2 linked regions of the Homo sapiens genome follow. The protein of the gene in region 2 purifies or fractionates together with the protein of the main gene of each other region. This does not show direct contact. Each region holds a gene or a part of one and is shown on either strand. Other genes may lie near its edges.

Region 1 (3,653 bases), on a different chromosome or scaffold from region 2:
TTTTCTACCCTTCATCTTATCTTTTAACTTTGCAAAAGGAGATCTGGTTTTGTCCTTCATTGATAAGTCAAACATACTTGCGGTCATATTGTTCCTCATAAACTGAATATTGACCTTTATCTCACCCCTGTTTTTGATTCGTTTTCCTTGTTTGGATTCTAATCTAAACCACCTTAAAGAGAAGAAAAAAAAATTGGCTGTAACACATAATAGAGAGAGGATACTGAGTTCTGTTACATACAAATAGCCTTTTAGGTAAAGTAACTATACATCAAGGCAACCTAAGCTCTGAATAAGAATCTGTCAGCCACAGTATTTCGGGCTTTACTTATTATTTAGTTTAAAAAACTGATCATTGTCTCTGTGATGTAACATATACTGAAGGAATGAATAGGTCTTTGGCAAGTTTGAAAATGTTTTCAGATAATCTTTTCTTTTGTAATTTGAAAATCACTCATCATCAAAAATTCTTATCAATGCTAGAAGTTTTCCATATGGGATTAAGTGTTGCTCACGGCCTAAGGACATTTTTTTTTAACATTAAAAGACATTGAGGCAGAGATTTTGAAAGAATTCACCAATACAAATTATTTTTGAGCATTATAAAATGAATCTCATGACATTTTAATACAATAATAAATACCTGGCCCCATCCCAAAATATTACTTACGTAAAAGTAGCAAAAGAATTTTGTTAACATTGGAGATCATTGCATATAGCTTGCTAATCATTAAAACAGCATATGATGTCATTTAGATTGACATAAAATGAATCAAAGCCTACTCCTGAATAAAATATGCAAAAAATAAGTAAAATGCAAGAAGTGACAAAAAATAAATCTTGTGAAGTTTTCAAAAGGAAAAAAAAAAACCTAAAATGCTTCTTGTTTGAATCTATTTGCTTCATTTTACTATTGCTACTGTGACAATACCAAATAAAAATTATTTTGAAAATGAAGCCAAATCTTACGTTTTAGTCCCTTCAATGTATGGCACTATCTGTATTTAAATGATATACAAGAAGCAATATTTTGGTTTTATAGTATTTTTATCCATGAGAAATTCTCCAGTTGGCCATGTCACAAGTGGTCATTCTATGGGAAAACAGCCAAAAAAAACTACAAAATCAAGCCTGAAAGAGTTTCTACAATGTTTTCACATAACTTAGCAATGAGGCATAATATCCATTCCTGCACACAGGTTATTATTTAAATATAGCTCTAATCGAGTGTAACAAATTTTCTTAGCTACAAAGGAACTCTGATCTAATTTTACATTAGTTCTTTCTCTCATTGTTACCAACTGGATATGCCAAGAGAAGATTACATTTACTGTATATCAAGTTGAAATACTGGCACATGATATAAATACCAGCTACATCTTTGCACGTAACATGGAAGAAAAATATTTTCTTGATTAACTAAATTGGAGCTATTCAATCAATTCAGATATAGTTGCATCAAAACTAGCCATTTCTTAGAATATCAATATTTTAAAATACTATTAGCCTGAGACCTTAAACTGAGAAAATCCCTTATATAAGGCAAATGGTAAAATCTGAAGAAACAGGGGCTAGAAATAAGAAATGACAGCGATTTCTGTGAAATAGACAACCTTAAATAACATACAATTGAGCACTCAAAAAGCCTGGAAATGAAGCAGATTATATACCCAGTTAACTCAAAGTTTTGGAAAACAGAGCTATTTTCAATAGGGAGAGAAACACATCTGACGAACAGTAGCTCAGAAATACTCTGTAGTACCTCAGGCTTTATAGAATGTAGGTGAATATACTTTGCAAAAAATGTACCAAAAATTTGCAAACAAAAACGAGCACGTATGTAACAAATCAAAGCAAATATGAGTAAAAAAAAATTAATTACCCCCAAAATGGAAGGGGGTGGGGGTAGTGGAAATTCACAGACTTTTAGAGATAAGACCAATAAATCATCTACTTTAACATCTTTATTTCATAGATGAGGAAATTGAGGCACAAGGAATGATATGTAACTTCCCAATGTCAGATTAAAGTCAATAAAGAAAAAAATCTAAAGTTGATGAATAACATCTGCAGGAAAATAGAAGCTCTTTCTTATTTGATGAACCACATATGTTAATAAGGTTAACCACATGGCTGGCACATACTGCAGGACACTGTATTTAATAAGGAGACATGAGAGCTGAAGAGAAAGACAATGCAAATTTTCTACTGCTAGAGTATAAGCTCCTGGAAGGCAGTCTGCCTTGCATTAAATGTTTATTCAATTTTTATTTCTAGAACTATATTCTTACAAGTAAGCTACAACTGTGTGTGTGTGTGTATGTGTTTACATTGTCTTGTTTTTTTAGTAGGAAACTGTAAAGACCTATGTAAACCTGAATAAAGCAAATCAGTATTTGACTACAAACTGTAAATACACTATAATGTCCATTCCCCACCCCCCAAAAAAAACTGCAAAGAACTTTTACAAATATACTCATTGAAAATGTAGCAATGACAAATAACTTTAGTTGCTTTGTTTTGAAAATGACATAATAGGGAAGTCTTAATGAGATCTTCAAGAATCATTTCAGAGATAGCATTTGTTTTTCCAGTCTTCAGAAAGATAAAACGAAGACACAGCATTTGGAGCTTACTGGATTAGCTGACTTTTTTTCACCTCTGGAGTACTGGATTTAAACTGTACATGGCCTCTGTTCAATTTTTAGTGGGCACAGGTCCATGTTCAAAAACCAGCACACATATGGGAACTATTCCCAAGCAATTGGTGCTGTGTGGTCAGAAATGGGACAAAATTGGCAGTAAGGGTGCCAGAGGCCAGGACACAGGTGCACCGCTGAGACACACACACGTCCTAAAATCTGCATATGTCTGAGTCACATCTAACTCTACAGACTCTGGTTGTTATTACTTTTCATGAGCATTAAAAAAAAAAGTCAACATCACCTACTTCTATTGTAAAAAATCAATGGATATTACACAACAGCATCAATGATTTTAACATTCTATTACTAAACATTGTATTATTTCTTTAAATCTCATGCCAGAACCAACCCAGACATCCTCTAAAGGAGGAGATACAGAAGTTCTCTTCCCAGGCCCACTCAAAGGGTTCTGGCTCAGACCCTTTTTCCCCATTCCTTAAGAGAGAAAAAAGACATATATTTTCAAGGTAAGAAAATAAGTAAAGTAATAATTTTAGTTGTCATACTTCTTTATCTATCATGACACAACTGGAAGACAAGCTGTAAATATATGTCTTCAGTGTCAAAATGTAAAAAGTGTCACACCCAGCAGTTTCATAGGACATCTAAGTTAGCTGGTAGTCCTCATCACTCGAAACAGTTTTCTAAAAAGCACTTGGGAATATGCTGAAAAAGTTTAGCAATGTGCAGAATATTAAATATCTTCCTTGAAATATACCGGCGGCTCAAGTCTGTCTCTTACTGGGCCACAGGTACAGCTGTGCTAGAAAAGGAAGCTATTAAATATATTAAAAAACTAGAAATATTACCAATAAAGATATCTCATCAAATACATGGTCCCCATTTATCCACAAATAAAATGTTAAGGGTTTAGCAATATATGAAAATCACTTTGAATGCAATAACATCACAAACCCTGTTGATAACATTTAAAAGCATTTTACCCCT
Region 2 (3,753 bases):
AACATTGCTTATGCTGTGTGAGTTGGGGAAAACTTATTTCCCCCTCTAAAAAAAATTAAGGCTCAGTTTCCAAAAGATAATTATATCAGTCATTTTTCTGTTTAAGAGACTGGGAAAATTCGGGAATAAAAAGCACAAAGGGGTGGAGGGTGAGGGGTAGCTCCACACACTCTCATTCATTCATACTGAAGTTACTCAATGTGATTTTTTTTTTTTAAGGCTCCTTCTATCTGAAAATGTGTTTGGTTACAAAAACAAACAAATCAGTAGATGGGAGGGGTACTAGGTACAGATCTACAGCATTCAAACAAGGAAAACTAAGCTCTTTGTTACCAGTTGCTGGTTAAAATGTGGTCTACGAGCTGCCTACATATAAATGCGCACACACATTAACTTTGACTCACTTTTCTTTGGCGAAGCTTACTGAATAGTATTTCTCTTCCAACACACTAATGACACTAATTTACATTTCCTTTTGACTTTCAGAGCAGGTGGCCACAAAGTTGTCCCTTTTCCTAAATACAATCCTCCATTTTTCCTTTCAACCTTGCAGTAGACCATAACCATAATGGTCATCTTGCACTGATGTGTAATCTCACCATTTAAGTGACTGAAGAAAGTGGCAAGGCTAATTACAGAAAAAGAGTTTGGGCATTTTTGGAGAATTACCCTATCGATGAGTTCCAAACACACTTTTCAAGCACTTTTTTCTATACAAATATTTCATTCAGTCCACAGTGATGCCATCATTTTACAAAAGCAGAATCTGTTTTAACTCAGTAAACCACCTTACAATCCATGGGGCTAATGTTACAACAACAACAAAAGCCAAAAAGGGCACCTGTAGGTTCTGCCTCTGGCATAAAGAGGTAGAGACAATCATTCTGTAGAAAAGATTAACAATAATAAAAACAAAACAATAAAACAAAACAAAACAAAAAAAGCCATTCCATTTCTAAGGGCTAGTTCTAGATCTAAAGGCTGTCATCCGTCCTCTTAGCTGAGAGATCCATTGCCCACAATCATCTTGCTGTAATTTTTCTGCTGCTCTTCCTTAAAGATGTCCTTCACCTTTGCTCTCTTTAGTCCTCCATCCCTGCAAACAGAAAGACAAATACATAAAAGATACTTTACAGCGGTGATTTAAAAGAGTTAACTTAATAATTACATGCTGCATGATACCATGACGCTTAGGCAGCTGGGATGAAATAAGGGAAAGAACACTGGATTTGGAAACAGGAAGACCCAGGTTTCAGTTTCTGCCCTACCACTTGCCAAATACACATTACTTTGAGGAAGGAACAATCTCTCTGATGTTTGGTTAAAATAAGTAACAATATCCCCAACTCAGTTTCTTTAGAAGTTAAGGGGTGGTGTATTAAATATTTGGATTGGCCAGGCACAGTGGCTCACATCTGTAATCCCAGCACTTTGGGAGGCCAAGGTGGGTGGATCACCTGAGATCAGGAGTTCGAGACCAGCCTGGCCAACATAGTGAAACCCTGTCTCTACTAAAAATACAAAATTAGCTGGGCATGGTGGTGTATGCCTATAATCCCAGCTACTTGGAAGGCTGAGGCAGGAGAATCGCTTGAACCCGGGAGGTGGAGGTTGCAGTGAGCCGAGATCACGCCATTGCACTCCAGCCTGGGCAACAAGAGCAAAACTTCGTCTCAAAAACAAACAAACAAACAAACAAAAACTGGATTGAAACAAGGATTATTAAAACTAGGATTATTTCTCTATATTATTCCTTAAGGAAAACAAAATACTGGTTTTTCGTCTACCTATGTCTTACTAGAAAACCACAGGAAAATTTAAAATATACACAGAAGAAATGGTAAGGGTACTGTATATGTGTGGGTAAATTTCTTAAAGATAAATGATTATTCAAAAAAGATAAATCATTGTTCAAATATAACCCTATCTATGTTTAACAAGTTATATTTTCTTTTTTTTTTTTTTTTTTTTTTGAGACAGAGTTTTGCTCTTGTTGTCCAGGCTGGAGTGCAATGGCACAATCTTGGCTCACCGCAACCTCCACTTCCCGAGTTCAAGTGATTCTCCTGTCTCAGCCTCCTGAGTAGCTGGGATTACAGGCATGCACCAACAGGCCCGGCTAATTTTGTATTTTTAATAGAGACAGGGTTTTTCCATGTTTGCCAGGCTGGTCTCGAACTCCCAACCCCAGGTGATCTGCCTGCCTCAGCCTCCCAAAGTGCTGGGATTACAGGCGTGAGCCACCGTGCCCGGTCTAACAAGTTGTATTTTCATTCAAAGCACTATATTTCCAGCATTTATAATCATTTATATTCCAAAACAGATTCCGAATAAAATAACAAAATCATAAGTTGCATTCAACCAGAAGTGCCTATGTAAGCAGCATTCCTTCATTCAGAGCCTGTAAATCTTTGAACTCTCTCCAGGGTGCCTGCCTGGGTATAAGAACTCTGCATGCTTTTCCTTCTTTGGACTACACATAAAGAAACAACAAACTGGAGTTGCTGGGAGTAGTTTGGACTATCATAGGTCACTATCTGGCTCCTAATCTAAAGTTTTAGATTTTAACTGCTAGGAGAGCATGGGCTGAGAACTTGCTTACTTTATACTCTGACTGTTTAATTTTAACCCAGTTAAGCATGCATGTTTACCAAATGCTTTCTGATGATGGTGAATGATCGTAGGTTAGCCAGTGAACTCAATGCCATGTGGACAGAACTTGACCTCCACAGAGACACCGGCTTGAGACAAATGCAATGTTCTGGCTTCTAGACTCAAATCTAAGACACAGCAATAAGTCCTCAACTTAAAAACAGACTGTGATCCACAAATCATCCAGTGGGTCAGTTGTGGGAGGTTTTCATGAAACAAGATTATAAATTGTTGTTAGGTCCACAGAATTGTCCACATAAGCCTCTTTTATCCAAATGAGCTTCTTCTATTAACAGCACTTACCTGAATTCTGAATAGTGAGAACTAAGGAAACTAAAGAAATAAGAAAGGCCTTTCTCCTTTCACAAGATCCAAGCCCAAAACAGGCAAAAATGTAAGTCTTGAGCAATCTGACATCATTTTGTACAATTCTCCTTCCCAAGCACCCAGTAAACCTCATGCTGCTCTAAGCACTTAAACTGTGATTTGCCACCCCTTAGAGACTTCAAAATTTTATCCAATTCCCCTTTGCAATGGCAGCAGGTCTTAGTTCTTAAGAGAGGGAGCAGCCATATATAAAAGCCAGTTTAAGATCATAAAATTATATTTTCACTCAATCTATGAAAAAACAATCTAGATATGTTAATTCATAACCAATAGGTACATGACAAATAAATCTAGAAAGGCAATGAGGCCACTTTCTTTTTTTTAAGAGGCTAGGTAATTAAAAGTAATTTTATTATACAATTGCATATGGCCTGAAAAAAGGACACTGGACAATTCTGAGGATCATTTTTGATGGATTTAGTTCAGCCACTCTGATGGAGAGTCTGTACTTGGCTGACTCCCCTAGGTTGTTCTTGTCTCTCAAGGCTTTCTTCCCTTCCTGTGTCTGAGACTACAGACACTGACTTCAGGATAGAAGCAGGAGGGCTGAGTGTCAGGTAAGATAAAGAGTGAGTAAAGAGTTTTAAATAAGGAAAAGGAACCCAGTTGCACGTATGACCATGGGTTATAGGACATCTGTGGACCAAGGTCGTTTTATATAGTTTTGTGATGCTATGATTCTGTCATTTAGTTTAACATATTCCAATGTAGACA

The links. The genes of interacting proteins can lie anywhere in the genome.
Region 1: the proteins of GPAT3 (region 2) and RAB11FIP2 purify together in Homo sapiens (affinity purification with mass spectrometry; one large-scale study listed by BioGRID and IntAct). This does not show direct contact.

The regions. Positions count from the first base shown.
Region 1 is NC_000010.11:118,040,394-118,044,046, forward strand, and holds part of RAB11FIP2 (rab11 family-interacting protein 2), read right to left. Parts: intron 173-3,653; coding exon 1-172. UniProt on the Homo sapiens protein: A Rab11 effector binding preferentially phosphatidylinositol 3,4,5-trisphosphate (PtdInsP3) and phosphatidic acid (PA) and acting in the regulation of the transport of vesicles from the endosomal recycling compartment (ERC) to the plasma membrane.
Region 2 is NC_000004.12:83,602,011-83,605,763, reverse strand, and holds part of GPAT3 (glycerol-3-phosphate acyltransferase 3), read right to left. Parts: intron 1,097-3,753; coding exon 997-1,096; 3' UTR 1-996. UniProt on the Homo sapiens protein: Converts glycerol-3-phosphate to 1-acyl-sn-glycerol-3-phosphate (lysophosphatidic acid or LPA) by incorporating an acyl moiety at the sn-1 position of the glycerol backbone.